Linked DNA regions of Homo sapiens: region 2 is linked to region 1. Evidence: fine-mapped expression QTL. A gene starts in region 1. The other region holds a variant in brackets. All regions are shown on one strand. Distances are between the middles of the regions. Region 1 holds the start of FBXL5 (F-box and leucine rich repeat protein 5). Region 2 overlaps FBXL5 (F-box and leucine rich repeat protein 5).

Evidence for each region. PIP is the estimated chance that this variant, and not a neighbour inherited with it, causes the effect.
Region 2: its variant is fine-mapped to the expression of FBXL5 in whole blood (INTERVAL, PIP above 0.99).

What each region holds. Positions count from the first base shown.
Region 1 is chr4:15,651,764-15,660,101 of GRCh38, reverse strand. It overlaps FBXL5 (F-box and leucine rich repeat protein 5), which reads left to right and starts at 4,745. Exons shown (of 11, transcript NM_012161.4): 1 at 4,745-4,898. The coding sequence starts at 4,815. It also overlaps a transcript of FAM200B not described here. RefSeq lists an enhancer at 4,221-4,340 and silencers at 4,641-4,750, 4,675-4,852, 4,991-5,060, 5,091-5,310.
Region 2 is chr4:15,619,684-15,628,021 of GRCh38, reverse strand. FBXL5 (F-box and leucine rich repeat protein 5) reads left to right here. Exons shown (of 11, transcript NM_012161.4): 7 at 1-137; 8 at 1,067-1,149; 9 at 2,045-2,770. Among named protein-coding and RNA genes, the nearest start is that of FBXL5, 32 kb to the left of the region's middle. The variant C/T (reference allele first, on the strand shown) is at 3,902.

The DNA of each region.
Region 1 (8,338 bases):
CTTTAAAAAAAAAAAAAAATGTCAGGGGTAGGGAGGAAGGAAACAGAACTGATACTTTCCTAATACTTTTTTTTCCCCTCTCTGTAGGCAGGGATTAAGCAACTGCCTGCCAGATTTCATCACTACAATGAATGTAACTCTGACACTTTACAGGAACTTATCATTTCTTTCCATTCCAGAAACTTGTGATACTTTCTCACTACATGGTGCAAACAGCTGAGTCAAGTTGTCCCTGAGAGTAGCCACCTTTCCCTCAGGCCATACACATGGAACCATTCTTTCTCCCTACAAGTCAGCCCATAATAGAGCCTCTGGTTGAAAATCAAGATTTTGGTGTTCACTTGGCAATATTTACTAAGAGGTAAATGACGCAAGGTAGGTGACATAAAGGTATATTTGGGAAATGGAAGGCTCTTCTCTGTCTGAAAATTTTGCAAGGAAACTTTATGGACCACTATACACATTATATCTCCAGATTTAAAATGAAAGAGACTATGATTTTAGTATTATCTAAACTTCTCTTCAAAAGGAGATCTAAGGAATGGGACTACTCTATATTTGGACAGTTAACGTAGTTTGCGGTGCAGCTCACATTCTCCTGGTAGAAGGAATTAGAAATCTGAGTAAAGAGATTCCCAGAACTGAATCTTACCCAGTACCCAGTTTAGGAATCAATTTTTGCTTATGAGGTCAAAATGAGAACCCTTTAAAGGAGGGTAACAATTGTTGAAATTAGGACTTTAAATATAGCTTGTTTGGATTAGTTTTTCTTAAAAACCATATATGTATATTACTGAATAACAGGAGTATTTTGGTTTGTAAAAACTTTTCAAATTCTCATTCATGCAGCAAGAAATATTTTATGCCTACTATGTATGCCTACTACTTGTTCAGGGAATGTAGATAAACATTATTACATAATGTCAGGTACTTAAAACTGCTAAGAAATTAATTATTTTACTGGGTACCCTTCCATTTATGACATTCTTCTGATTTTTTGTCATTAAATATATTATTTAGTTAAAGCACAGGAGGGACTGAAATTAATGAGGAAGAAACATTGATCACTGCAGCTGATTAAGGATGGGGTGGATAGTATGAAACTGAGTTTAAAAGCTGGGAAATTCCAAGAACAGTAATCAGGATTTATTCAACTTTATATCTCAAGCTCCTGCTGCATATTGGGTGTCCAGTTTAACGCTGAATATGAAAAAATTAAGTCTCTGGAGTCCCAGATGGATAATTTTTCTTAATATTTAATGCTGAACTTAAGGGCCACTTCTACCAGAAAGCCCTCTGTGGCTATCGAGAAAGTAGATTAAGACATCATCCTGTATGTGCCTGTCTTAGTCTGTTTTCTATTGCTTATAACAGAATACCTGAAACTGGGTAATTTATAAAGAAAAAGAATTTATTTCTTACAGTGTGGGGCTGAGAAGTCTATGGTCAAGGGGCTGCATCTGATGAGGGCCTTTTTTCTGGTGGCGACTCTGCAGAGTCCCAAGGCAGTGCAGGACATCACATGGCGAGGGACTCAGCATGCTGGCACAGGTCTTTCTTCCTCTTGTAAAGCCACCAGTCCCACTCCTATGATAACCCATGAATCCTTTAATCCATGAATGAATTAAGCCATTCATGAGGGCAGAACTTTCATGACCCAATCACCTCTTAAAGGCCCCACTTCTTAATACTGCCTTATTGGGGATTAAGTTTCAGCATGAGTTTTAGAAAGGACAAACATTCAAACCACAGCAATTCCTAAATCAGCCTGCTGCAGCAGTTGTTGATTGACTATTTTGATGGACAGTAAGGATCAACTCTGGTACTGAGTGAGGACTATGATTCCAACTGGGTCAAAACGTAAACATTCTTTCATTGCTTGTTTTCACAACTAATCCCCTATTAGGGAAAGTGCTGTGTCACATACTCAAACGGAGTGAAATGCCTTAGAATTGACCCTCCCTGGCCAATAACCCTTTCCAGGGTTCTCAAAATTAGGCTTGGAAACTACTATAGAAGAGGCCTATTGATAACAGAATAAGTTATATTTTTAGGTTGCCAGAGAGAGAATGAGAGTAGGTAAGAGAAACGACCAATTCTACCAGTTATTCTACAATGTGGGTTTTCACTGCTCTGTTCACATGCCTTATTCAGACTTCTTGTGGTGGTCAATTGCTAGATGGTCTGTTGGAATTATCTGCTGTCATACATCCAAAAAGGTCTCACAGAGAGGTAAAGTGACAACCTTGGTCTTAATAACCCTCCCAAATCTGCTGTAGTTGCAGTAACCTATGGTAATGATACTACACTGATCAATGACCTCTTTAGAGCTAAAGTTCAGTAAAGTCAGTCATTTATTTTGGATATATCAGGTGATTAATTGCTACATAATTCAGCATATGGAGCTAATGTTAATAGCTTTCCATGGGAAAAATTACTCACAGGGATTATTTTTAAAATCACTTTCTTTCATTTTGTCATCTAAAACAAATTCCTTGAAATGGCCAGTGTCCAAAGTGGCTGTTACTACTTTTCAGCTGATTATAGAGCTTCAAATCTGGGTTACAGTGAAACTGTGTGGATGGACTTTTTTTGTTGTTGTTGCCAAATACCTTTTTAATGTGTCTGGTTCTACAGATGGATACACTAGTGAACAGCACAGACACAAACAGTTGATTGGACAAGACAACATAGCATATTAAACATTAGTAAAAATGAGGAAATTACACAGTGCTATGAACTACCCTCATTCTTTTTTCCAACATATTTACTGAATACTCACTTTATGACAGACATCATTCTAAGTGCTGAGGATAAAACAAAGTGCATGTTCTCATGGAGCTCATTTCTCTATATAACTGGTTCACCTGAGGTCTGATTCTGCATTCCAAGATAGCTGGAGTGAAAGATTAGTATGAGGTAAAGAAATAGAGGGTAAATAAGAAAATGCTCTCTGGAGGTTATTAAAAAATATAGAGGCAAAGTCCTGGCAAAAGAACGAGAAACGGGGTGAAAGGGAGAAGGAGGAAGAGAGAAATTAATCTTTATCAAATATTTTATTATTATTCTATTTCTTAAGCCTTATTCCTGCTTCTTAAGACAGACTGTGAATAAGCCATCTCTGTATCCCAACTAATGCAATGACTCTGGGGGTACTGTCAGATCCAGATTTATATGACAGATTTTTGACTTACTAATTTGTGGGACCCTAGGCAACTACTAGAATGTCTTGAAGACTTAATTTCCTGCAGCACTACCTCATAGAGTTGCTTTAAAAAAGTATTACTAGCTTACAGACGGTACTGTTATAAGTGCTTCAAATATATAAATCCTCATAAAGATTCTGAGGTAGGTATTATTAGCTTCATTTCATGTCAGAGCAAACTGAGGCATAAAGAAGTCATATAGCTTGTTAACGGTTGTATAGCTAGTGTCTGGCAAAACCAGGAATCTTAACTTCCAGAGTCTGTGGTTTAACCACTGTTCACACTGTCTATAATAGCATATAGTAATATAAGATTAGAACTAAATAGGGTGCATTCCACTGCAAAGTTCTTTCTCACCTTCTTCTACTCCATTATTTGTTGACTATTTACTGATCCCCATGTTGTCTTGCAACTGTGATAGATAATAGAGAACAAGGGTGAACACAGCATATCTGGTTCTTGCCCTCCTGGAGGTTCTGGCCATTAAGCAAATAACAATTCCTCCCAAGGTTCTCAGGCTTCCCTGTTTTCTCCTATTTCTCTATCTGTCCAGCAGTACTCCAGCCAACCAATCTAAGACTGACCGGCGTGAGCAGAGAACAGAGTCTCCAGGAGGTCTGTGGCCAGGGCCAGGCGATTTATGGGAAAGAGGCAGACATTTTCCTGGGTTAGTGACCTTGTTTTCTCTCCGAACCTCCGCTTAAAATGGCGGGATTTGTACCAAGGTTCTTTCCCGCACCAACCTTCCATTATTCACCCTTCTCCCCACCCCCAAGGCCCGTCGGGCCTATCCCTGACCCGCGTTCCTGCACTTGAGGTGCATTTCCGCACCTGGATCCCCAGATACTGTTTTTCCCCCACGTTGAGTCTCCCGAATTTCACGAGAACTCTCTCTCGCGGTCTCTGCCCCGCCCCTCGCACCCAGGCCCCGCGCCCGCTGTGGGCTGCCGCCCGGGACCGAAGCTCTCAGAGCCCGCAGCTCTGGTTCACCAACCGCTGGGTGGGAGCCAGGCCCGGCCTTTGAGTGGCGGCCGGGGTGGTCTGCGCTCGGCCCCAGGAAAAATCTGGCACGGGCCAATCGCAGGGAGGCGAAGGGCAGCTCCGGAGGTCCTGGCCAGAAGCATTGGTCACCCAGGCCAAGCAGGCGTCGGGGCGTGGGCACAAGCAGAGCTCGCGGCCCTGACCGCGGCCATTGTGCTTGGCTGCCTCTCCTCAAGGCCGTGGTGGGCAGGGCAGCAACGGGAGAAGCGCCGAGAGCGCCACTGCAACGACTTTCCCCTACCCTCAGCTACTGTGCTTTCATGTAGTGAAAGAAACAGGGAAAAGGTTTGGGTTCCTTCTGCGGCTTATGAAGACGACAAAAAACGAAAAGAGTGGGGGCGGGAGGCAGAAGCCGCGAGCCTCTGCGCGCGCCCGGTCACGTGGGCCGCAGGGATCGCATGGCGGCGGCCTGCGCGCCCCCGCGTCCCCGCCGGCCAAGCCGACCGGGCGCGCGCGCCGACGGGGCGGGCGCATGCGCAAGGGGGCGCGCCGCCTCTGCCCCGCGGCGAGGGTGTCTATGGAGAGGCGGCGGCCGCGGCTGCTGAGGCGGAGGCTGAGGCAGTGGCGATGGCGCCCTTTCCTGAAGAAGTGGACGTCTTCACCGCCCCACACTGGCGGATGAAGCAGCTGGTGGGGCTCTACTGCGACAAGGTAACGGAGCGCTGAGCCTCCCGCTGTGGGCGGTGCGGGCGGCGATGGGGAGCGGGCTGGGTTCTTGGGGCGGCCTGGCCTGCGCCGCGCCCGCAGCCCCGTGCCGTCGCCGCGCGAGTAGCCGCCTGCGCAGCTGTCAGCGCCGCCCGCTCCCGCAGCCTGCCCGCCCGCTGCGAGGCCTTCGCAGAGCCGGCCTGGCCGCCGCCTCGGACGTGCTCTCGGGGCGGGCGGCGTCCCCTGCCGAGGGCCTGGCGGCTGAGGAGGGGCGCTACCGGCGTCACTGGCCGCCCTCGGGCCGGCCCCACCGCCGCGCTGGGACTCCCGCTGCTGCCTCTAAGGAGAGCGGCCCTACCTCCTCGAAGCCCTGGGTGCCCCGGCCGGCCACCTGCGGTGGACTCCCATCTGCACCGAGTAGTTGTTCCCGTCCCCCGTCACTCCCCCGGGCCTGTTCGGGGCTCTCCGTGCAGACACCCACCCATCCTCTGCACCTCTCGCTGGCTTCCTGGCTGGAACTGCAGCGTCTCCCAGCTACCCGGTTCCTTTTACCCCCGGCTTTCTTCACTGGTTTGATTTGGGAGAAAAGCCAAGTTTAGAACTGAAGAACCTTCACTCTTCATGTGTCGTTATCGTTTTCCTTGCAACTTTTATTGCCCTGAACACTTACTGGATGTAGATTTTGTTATAAGACAGCAATTCTCTCTTGGATTTCTTTATATGAGCTCGAATAAAGGGGGCCTCAGGAAAAGTTGGTTTAACTGTGAGAACCATTTTGGGCCCATAATTGGTGCAGCATAAGCTGAAGAGGCACTTTTGTGGAGATGGTTCAGGGCCCTTTGCTAGTGATTTTAAAACAATATTAACATTCCACGTATTTGTCAGTTTATGTTGGGGAAAGTCATGGATATCTGCAAACCTCAGGCAGTCCCGTTTCTTGTGGAAATGATCCAACTAAATAAAGCATTCAAATGACTACTGTTTAAGCATAGAAATCAACTTTTAGGAATTCTCAGAAATTGCATAGCATTATGCAGAACCATTGTCTACAGAAAAGAGGGGTGTTTCATAGCTCAGCCAGGCGATTGGAGGATGCCCAGGGTATTCACTGTTAGGCCACACTCAAGACCAGCAATTTAAAGCAGTGACGTTGAATTTCAAATCTTAGCACTCCATCTTCTCCCTCCCTCCATTCTGAAAATTTAGAAACACCCAGTTCACATGAGTTGGAAACACCAGGACTGTCTAGGACAATGGTTTGCAACCTTGGTTGCTTATTAGCCTTAAACTAAAAACTATTAGAAGTCCTGATGTCTAGGTCACTAAAATTAGGATTTCACCCAGACATCAGGTATAAATGATTAAAGCTCTCCATTTGAGTGCAGTATGCAGCTGAGGGTGAGAACCACTCATCTAGGAGAAGCATGAGGAATGGTTAAGCCATTAAGCAAGAGGGTATATCCCTGAATTTTTTACTTAGCAGTATTATAGTGTTTTTATCCTCTCTGGCTTTTGAATATCGTTCATTCAGACACCATTCTTTAATAGCAGGAAAGAAAAAAAAAATGGTCTCAAAAATCGAAAGTGGAAGTGAAGACTAACAGAATCCAAGGTTTTCTCTCCACTTTAGACTGTGGAGAGGTAGCCTAGGATCACCTGAAATTATATGGAAAATTTTGTGCGTGTGTCCATTTTCCTAGGGTGTTTGTAGCTTTCATCGATTTCCAGATGATTGTGACCTCCCAAAATAAAGAATCACAATTTAATTTACTTGCAGACTAAGGCTAAGCAGCCTTATTTTAAAATTTTCAAGAAGTTAGTCGCTCTTTTTCTGTCTCTTCCTGGTGGTTGAGAGTATTTGAACAAATTTTGAAAATGCAGTTGCTTTTTTACAAGATATCTGAGCCAAGAGTCTTTTCAGTAATGTTCCCACTTGCATAACTAGTTTAATAAAGCATTTTCAATTTGACATGGTGTAAGTCAAAATTATTACTAATTCTGAATTAATTAGATATAGTTAATGAGATTGTTGTATACGTTTATCACGAAGATTAAAAGTCCAATTTTCTGAACTGAAACTGAGGCGATTTAGGGAAAAAAAAATGCATAGGAATTTTACATCTGGATTTCTTCTTGATACTGATAGCCAATGGAAATCTCTCTTAGGATGTCCTTTGGGAGCTAGAGTGGAAAATAAGTATTTTGTAATGGTTCAGTAATCTTAAAGGAATTAAAGGAAGAGTACCTTGTTTGTTTTTATCCATTTATCATCTCACGTTTTGCCATCCTTTGGTTGTATAGACCAAGGATATCCAACCAAACAGTTTACAATAAAACTATATAAAATGAGAACTAGTTTTTATGCTCAGACTAAAAAGGTACAAAATAGTTATTTCACTGTACAAATTTGGGCTCTGAATGCCCAGTTATTATCAAGAAGTCAGTTACTATTTTCAATATTGAACTTCTCAAGTAGAATGTATTTTAGAAGCATCCATTTATTTACTAGCATCAAGTAAACCACTTATATGCTTAAGCCAGTTAGTATAATGTATTCCAAAGTTATGTTAGTCTACTTATTTTTTAGGTATAAAGGTGAATAGGATGAGAAAATAAATTTTCAAAAGCTGACAGATGTATGTCTTAGACCATTTTAAATATTGCTGTACAATACCCGATTTAATACTTTGCCCATGGATTTCTTTTTACATCTGTAAAAAGTTTTATGGAAAGGTTTTTCACCTTTGTTATCCAGACAACAGTGCTTTGAGTTATGTAAAGACAAGGTATTTCTGTTTTATAGCTGGGGACTTAGAGGCCTAGATTAGCTAGGCCAAGGTTACATAAGCAGCTAGTGGTAGATTCAGATGGAAACCCAAGTCATTGTTAGGATTCCTAGTTTAATTTTCTTTATATTAAATCATAGTAGTTTCTTACTTTTTTGGGAACAATCTGCTAAGAAATCTCCTGCTAATTCACTGACCTTTCAGACTGGGATGATGTTAGTAAATATTTATATTGAATGACATCCTTTTTCCATTTTACTTCAATTTCTCAGTCTTTTCTCCAGTTCTCCAAGGTTAACTCCATTAATTCTGTCAGTGAGCATTGGAGTTTCTACCGTCTACTCTGTAGTAGCTTGTACTACAGAAAGACGTTGGCAATGTGACATGTGGTCTCTAGTCTCAAAAAGTTTACAGTCCAGTATGTAATAACATCTATGCTAGGATGGAAATCCAAATAGGGTATAGTGGGAGCAAAGGGAGTTACACGGTCAGCTCCACATTAAAGTGTCAGGAGTGGTCTCTTTGAATTGATTTCTGAGAGAAGAGTAGGCTGTGGTTGTCAGGATGTGGTTAGTTCAGAGATTCCCAGGCTTATATATAAACCAGTTATTAAAAACTCAAGTGGTGGAGGCCTTAAGGTGTGCCCAAATTTTTCAGGTA
Region 2 (8,338 bases), 32 kb after region 1:
AGGAATCAATTGCTATCAGCATTGCACAAATGGAAAAACGTTTACTCCATGGCTTAATTCATAACGTTCTACCATATGTTGGTACTTCTGTAAAAACCTTAGTATTAGCATACAGCTCTGCAGTTTCCAGCAAAATGGTATGTTTAAATTAACACTAGTTTGGGTATTAAGAAAAACAGCATGATAAGAGTTTGGTTTGCTCATTCCTGAGTTTAATTAAGGGGAAACAAACCCAAAAATGATTATTGAGTGCCTTCCTATGGGTAGGCATACACTGCTAGGTTACTTATTATTTCATTGCAGTTCTCACAACAATCTTTGTAGCATAATTATCATTACCTATATGTTACAGATGAGGAAACTGACTAGAAGAGGTTAAACATTTTATTCAGTTTCACAGATGTTAAGTGATAAAGCCCAGTTTTATGTGATTTTTTAAATAATATGTAAGGCATGGTAAGATGGGCAAATGAGATGAAATCACTGTTTTATAAAAGTGGATATTACGACTTCCTACATCAGAATCTTGAGTGTTCCTTAAAAATGTAAAAATCCTGGTTTAGTCTCATAACTGCTAAAACAGATACTTGGGCGGGTGCGGTGGCTCATGCCTGTAATCCCAGCACTTTGGGAGACCGAGGTGGGTGGATCATGAGGTCAGGAGTTCAAGACCAGCCTGGCCAATATGGTGAAACCCCATCTCTACTAAAAATGCAAAAATTAGCCAGATGTAGTGGCGTGTGCCTGTAGTCTCAGCTACTCAGGAGGCTGAGGCAGAAGAATCGCTTGAACCCGGAAGGCGGAGGTTGCAGTGAGCCAAGATACTGCCACTGCCCTCCAGCCTGGGTGACAGAGCGAGACTCTGTCTCAAAAAAAAAAAAAAAAAAAAAGAGATTCTCAGGGATTTGAGCCCAGAATATTTTATTATACTTTTTTCAAGTATTCAAGTGATTTTTTTTTATATTCACAAAAGTTTGTGAACTAGATTATGTTTACTAATAGTCATCTGTTACTTAGCTAACTGAAGTTCTGCAGATCTTTACAGTGACAATTTCTTGCCTTTTAGGTTAGGCAGATTTTAGAGCTTTGTCCTAACCTGGAGCATCTGGATCTTACCCAGACTGACATTTCAGATTCTGCATTTGACAGGTTAGTTATTTTAAACAATTTAAATATAATGAAAAACTATTTTATAAGGTTTCATTTATGTAATTGCAGTTTAATCATACTATTATTTTTTACTATCAAATCTCAGTCATGTCTGAGTATAATTTGATAGCACCCTCCAGTTCTTCACTTCTTACTCATAGGTCCCAGCTGATCCAAAAATCCCATCTGTATTATCTTGCAATCTCTGTAGTCCTATATTTTGTCTAGGCCCTTGAGCCCTGCTGTGCAACCATGTAGATTGGTATTATATGTTTTTAAGAAGTTTTAGTTTTAGTTGGGCTCTAAGTGCCATTTGGCAAAGCTCCCTCTTAGATTCTTCACAGTTACTCTGAAATAGTATAGTGTAACTTTCTTCAAGCCACCTTCTTCCCAGAGTATATCTCCTTGACCACCAATTCTCTGTATTATTGCTCACTCCCTCTTTCCCACCCAACTATTTATATCAGCACCTTTTTTCCTGCTGCAGAGGAAGAGGTATACTCTTCTCGGGCTAAAGCTAATGCTCCATCTTCCTAGAGCTTGTTTCTTATGGATCTTCCTCATTAACCGTCGGTTATTCTCTTTCTTTCATGTGTTTGCAGCCTTACTTCTGCTGACTACTTTTAGGATAATAAACTTAAGTCTTCCAATCCTTACGCCTCTCAAATCCTACCCTTCTGTTAGGTTAGGAATACTTTGACTTCCTTATTACTCTCATTGAGTTTTTGTATCCCTAGCATCAAGAATAGTACCTTAACAATAGATAATTCACTAAATACTTAAGTGATTATATTAGATGTCAAATCTTTCTTCTGGTTTTCATCTACATGCATATAGTCAAATGCTTTTGAAAAATTTAACAATATTCATTAATAGTCTTGTCTTTTAATTATAGTTGGTCTTGGCTTGGTTGCTGCCAGAGTCTTCGGCATCTTGATCTGTCTGGTTGTGAGAAAATCACAGATGTGGCCCTAGAGAAGATTTCCAGAGCTCTTGGAATTCTGACATCTCATCAAAGTGGCTTTTTGAAAACATCTACAAGCAAAATTACTTCAACTGCGTGGAAAAATAAAGACATTACCATGCAGTCCACCAAGCAGTATGCCTGTTTGCACGATTTAACTAACAAGGGCATTGGAGAAGAAATAGATAATGAACACCCCTGGACTAAGCCTGTTTCTTCTGAGAATTTCACTTCTCCTTATGTGTGGATGTTAGATGCTGAAGATTTGGCTGATATTGAAGATACTGTGGAATGGAGACATAGAAATGTTGAAAGTCTTTGTGTAATGGAAACAGCATCCAACTTTAGTTGTTCCACCTCTGGTTGTTTTAGTAAGGACATTGTTGGACTAAGGACTAGTGTCTGTTGGCAGCAGCATTGTGCTTCTCCAGCCTTTGCGTATTGTGGTCACTCATTTTGTTGTACAGGAACAGCTTTAAGAACTATGTCATCACTCCCAGAATCTTCTGCAATGTGTAGAAAAGCAGCAAGGACTAGATTGCCTAGGGGAAAAGACTTAATTTACTTTGGGAGTGAAAAATCTGATCAAGAGACTGGACGTGTACTTCTGTTTCTCAGTTTATCTGGATGTTATCAGATCACAGACCATGGTCTCAGGTGAGTTATCAGTTCCAGAATATTAAGAAATAGACGTGTTCTCATTTCCAAATGGAATATAAAAATTTTGATCTAAGTCATTCTTTTCAGTTGATTTACTTAGCAAAAAGGATTAACCAAGATCTGCCCTACTTCAGAGTTTTGGAGCAGTGTAACTTCTGTTATCAGTATGAAGTTTCATTTCTGTCAGTTCAAATCCATTGTGATGTATGGAAGAACATAAATTCTAAAGTTTAATAAATACTTAGTAAATGGCTACATCACATATTTTAAGGTACTTTAGTGGATGAAGAAGGTACAATTTTTACTCTCAAGAACATGTAACAAGAAAATATGCATATTCTGTTGCTGTGTATTATTTCTGTATGTTATAGTTTTATACTGAGGGTTTTGGAAAACGTAGGCTGTCCCTGGAAGTCATTTAGTCTGACTACACGGCTGTTAAGTGTTTACAAAAGCCAAAGCTGAGCTAGAGTTTCATATGTAGCTAGAGTTTAGAAATTTTGGTCTTTGATCATGATCAGCTTACCTTCTGTTGCTTTTTTAAGTCATAAAGAGAACATGTGGAAGAAGTTCTACATTTTCTTTTCTGTTTTTTTTTTTAATAAGCATAATCTTCAGCAGATTAAACCGACTTTTTTTTTTTTTTTTAACCTCCTAGAGGAAAGAAGGGCTGAAGGTGACACATGTGTCAGCCCAGACAGGTAGCTCTTTTCAGCAGCTAGGTTCTATATGTTTTATAGGACCCACCTCAAGATTTGTTAGGTTACGAGTATGCACTGTTGGAGAAAATACCATGGTGCACTGACTTGGGAGCATGGCAGACTTGATGTAGATTGATTTTGCTTTTTTCTGTATGACTGGCTTTGTGCAAAATACTTAACCTTATACTTTGAGGCTTATGTAAGAGGAATATATATAAGGCATCTAACAATGATACACAATAGATTTTCAATAAGTGGAAACTGATGTGCAGTAATCGATTATCTTTGACATGAGCCTTTGGAAATTGGATACATGCTTTTCTTTGATAATGGGATGTCAGATATTTTATAATGAAGAATTCTTCCAGCATAAAACTTAATACTCCCTACCATTAGAAAAGATACTTAATATGAAATTATTACAGGC[C/T]GGGTGCGGTGGCTCACGTCTGTAATCCCAGCACTTTGGGAGGCCAAGGCTGGTGGATCACGAGGTCAGGAGATTGAGACCGTCCTGGCTAACATGGTGAAACCCCATCTCTACTAAAAATAAAAAAAAAATTAGCCGGGCACGGTGGCGGGCACCTGTAGTCCCAGCTACTCTGGAGGCTGAGGCAGGAGAATGGTGTGAACCCGGGAGACGGAGCTTGCAGTGAGCCGAGATCATGCTGCTGCACTCCAACCTGGGCGACAGAGCGAAATTCCGTCTCAAAAAAAAAAAAAACTATTGTAAAATTTTTTCATAAGTCATATACAGTAACCAAAAGTGTTTTCCCCGAGGTAACTGGTATAACTGTGGTTTGGCTGCTGTGAATCATTTCATTAATTTTCTGTTTTCTCAAATCCAAGGGCATATGTTATAGTTTAAGAACATAAGCAAAGATAACTTTATTCTGAGTTTTATTCTTTAAAAAATTTTTATTACATGTCTGTATTCCTAACTGTAATATGATTTTGTTTTTGAATGCAACTTGATTTTAGAAAGTAAAAGCAATTTTTAGTTCAATTTAAAACCTCGTAATTCATTTTTCATTGTCATTTTTTTATTACTGTCATACCTTATTGAAATTTATTTATAGCTCTATTCAGTTTGCATTTTCAGTATGACCAGTTTTTGTGTTTTTTTCAAAGAATGAAGTAATACATGTGACCTTTCAGAGCCGCAATGACTTCTGACCATGTGGCAGTTTCCTTATCTTTTAGTTTTTTAGGATGTTTTAAAAAACCCAGAACTTACTAAAATTTTATATAATTAAAAATTGATTTCAAGGGCAGTCAAAATTTTGATGAATCAAAATTTTGTTTTTTTTGCTTTCAAAGTATTTAGAAACTCTTCTAGTATAAGGTTTTGGAAAACACTAGAAGGGAGCACACTTTATTTAAAAGCAGAATTGTAACGTTTTGTTTGAATACCAAAGAGTTTCCCTCCCCACTTCCTGAAAAGGCAGAGAGTTAATTTCTTAAGAGAAATTTGAAGAAAAGCAGAGAAAAGGTTTTTAGTTGTTATTTTAGGGTATGATTTTTGGCACTTCATTAACAAATTCTGATATTATCAACCTTAGAACAAAGTGGATAATTTACTGCTGTTGGGATTGGAAATAAGTTGCACTTATTCTTTAGGGTTTTCCTGAGTAGTAGTGAAGAGCTTGCATGTGAGGTATTCTTGAAAAGAAAGTTTGCGTTTGAATTGAAGGAAAAATTCATTTTGGGAACAAGGGAACACGTAGGATCTGTCTTATCTGTGGCTAATTGAAAAAGTCTTGTCTGAGTGCAGATTCCCTCATTTTAATTAAACCTTATCTTGAAGGATTCTTTCTAAACATTTAAATTTTCATTGAGCACCTACTACATTTCTTGCACTGTTCTAATTGCTAGAGGTCTAGAGTAACTAAGACAATTCTCTGCCTTCATGCAGTTTGTAATCTAATGGTAGAAATAGACAGAAAACATAGTATCAGACTGAATGTTCTGAAGAAAAGTAAAGTATGGGTACTTTACTTAAGAATACAGAGAATGCCACTTCATATTGAATGAACCAGGAAAGGCTTCTTTGAAAAGAAACAGGCATCATTTGAGTAGAGAGAGAGATAAAATTAGGGCATTCTGTGTACATTTCCTGAGAGACTGAGGAAATAGAAAATAAAAATTTAATTTTTAGAAGCAACTCTTTTTGCATTCATTGTATCGGTTTAAAAAGTGTTTCAGTCAACCAGTTACAGTAAGTACAACTTGTGTCAGTAGGTTTGAGGAAAAAATACAACTCATGTAAACATACAACTTAATTTATAGGAATAGAAATGTTCAGGTATACCAGTTGGGAGCATTCAGTGTATCCTGCTTTAGTCATTATGTTTATTCAGGATGAGTAGCATGAGTTTTGACAAGTTGGTAATGTGGAGCTTGTTAAAAGAGCATTGAGGCTGGGTGTGATGGCTTACACCTGTAATCCCAGCACTTTGGGAGGCCAACGCAGTAGGATCACTTGAGCCCAGGAGTTCAAGACCAGCCCGGGCAACATGGCAAAATTACATCTTTACCGAAAAGAAAAACAAAAATCAGTTAGGCATGGTGGCATGCACCTGTAGTTCCAGCTACTCAGGAAGCTGAGGTGGGAGGATGACTTGAGCCCTGGAGGTAGAGGTTGCAGTGAGCTGAGATGGCACTATTGCACTCCAGCCAGGGTAACAAAGCCAGACCCTGTCTCAAAAGAAGGAGCATTGACTGGAGAATGTTAAATTGATAAGGTTTTAGTTAGTTTGAAACCATAGGGAACAGATAGGGCCATTTGTGGTCTTAATACATTATTTTCTGGCTTTCATAGGAATGAAAATAAATCTTGGCTGTTAATTAAAAATAGCCTCTTATCTAAATTTTTAACTTTCTTTGGGCCCCTCATATAAGTGGAATCATACAATACTTGTCCTTTTGTATCTAGCTTATTTCACTTAGTGTGTTTCAAGGTTTATTCACATCGTAGCATGTATCAGAACGTCATTCCTTTTTATATACCACATTATGTTTATCCATCTGTTGATGAACACTGAGGTTGTTTCCACCTTTTGGCTATTGTGAATAATGCTGCTATGAATGTTGGCATATAAATATTTACTTGAATTCTTGTTTCCATTTCTTGTTTAATTCAGTGTACAAGTCCTTGGTTAAATTTATTCTTAAATATTACACATTTTGATGCTATTGTAAATACAATTTTATTTCTTAAACTTTTCAAATTGTTCATTGCTAGTATATAGAAGTATAACTGAGTTTTGCATGTTGATTTTGTATCCTACTATTCAGCTAAATTTATTAGTTCTAACATTTTTTTTGTGAATTCATTAGGGTTTTCTACATATAAGGTCGTGCCATCTACAGACAGATAATTTAATTTCTGATTTTCCAAAATAGACTGCCGAGACCAGCTCGGTCGGGGAGACCCTAACCCAGTGGCGCTAGAGGAATTAAAGACACACACACAGAAATATAGAGGTGTGAAGTGGGAAATCAGGGGTCTCACAGCCTTCAGAGCTGAGAGTCCTGAACAGACATTTACCAAAGTATTTATTAACAGCAAGCCAGTCATTAGCATTGTTTCTATAGATACTAGATTAACTAAAAGTATCCCTTATGGAAAACGAAGGGATGGGCCAACTTAAAGAAATAGATTGGGCTAGTTAACTGCAGCAGGAACATGCCCTTAAGGCATAAATCGCTCATGCAATTGTTTGTGGCTTAAGAATACCTTTAAGTGGTTTTCCGCCCTGGGCGGGCCAGGTGTTCTTTGCCCTCATTCCCGTAAACCCCCGACCTTCCAGCTTGGGCGTTATGGCCATCATGAACATGTCACAGTGCTGCAGAGATTTTGTTTATGGCCAGTTTTGGGGCCAGTTTATGGCCAGATTTTGGGGGGCTTGCTCCCAACAATAGACCTTTTATTTTTCTTGTCTAATTATTCTGACTAGAATTTCCAGCATTATGTTAAACAGAAGTGGCAACACTGTTTTGATTATTGTAGTTTTGTTGTAGGTTTTGAAATCAAGAGGTGTGAGTTTTCCAACTTTGTTTTTCCTTTTCAAGGTTATTTAGTATCTGGGGTTCCTTGAGATTCCATCAGAATTTTAGGGTCGGTTTTTTCTATTTCTGCAAAGAATGCCATTGAGATTTTGATAGGGATTGCATTAAATGTGTAGATCCCTTTGGGTAAAATTGACAACAGTATTAAGTCTTTTAACCCATGAATGTGGGATATCTTTCCATTTGTTTAGATCTTTTTTAATTTCTTTCAGTAGTCTTTTGTAGTTTTTGGTATCCAAGTCCTTTACCTCTATGGTTAATTTCTTAATATTTTATTTTCTTTGATGCTATTCTAAATGGGATTTTTTAAAATTTATTTTTCAGATTGTTAATTGTTGATGTATAGAAATGCAACTGAGTGTTGTGTGTGTCGACTCTTTATCTTTCTGAATTTTCTTTTTGTTCTTTTTTGAGACAGGGTCTTGCTCTGTTGTCCAAGCTGGAGTGCAGTGACATGATCATAGCTCGCTGCAGCCTTAGACTCCTAAGCTCAGGTGATCCTCTTGCCTCAGCCACCCTAGTAGCTGGGACTATTGGCATGTGTACTTGGCCTGCTGAGTTTATGTAGTTCTAACAGGTTTTAGGGTTTTCTGTATAGAAGATCTTATCATCTGTAAATAGAGATAATTTTACTTACTCCTTTTACTTTTTTGGGAGGGTGGGGGGAACTGGGTCTTACTTGTTGCTGAGGCTCAACTCAAACTCCCGAGCTCAAAGGATCCTCCCACCTAAGCCTGCTGACTAGCTGGGATTACAGGCATGTGCCACCTTGACATTCCTTTTCAATTTGGATGTC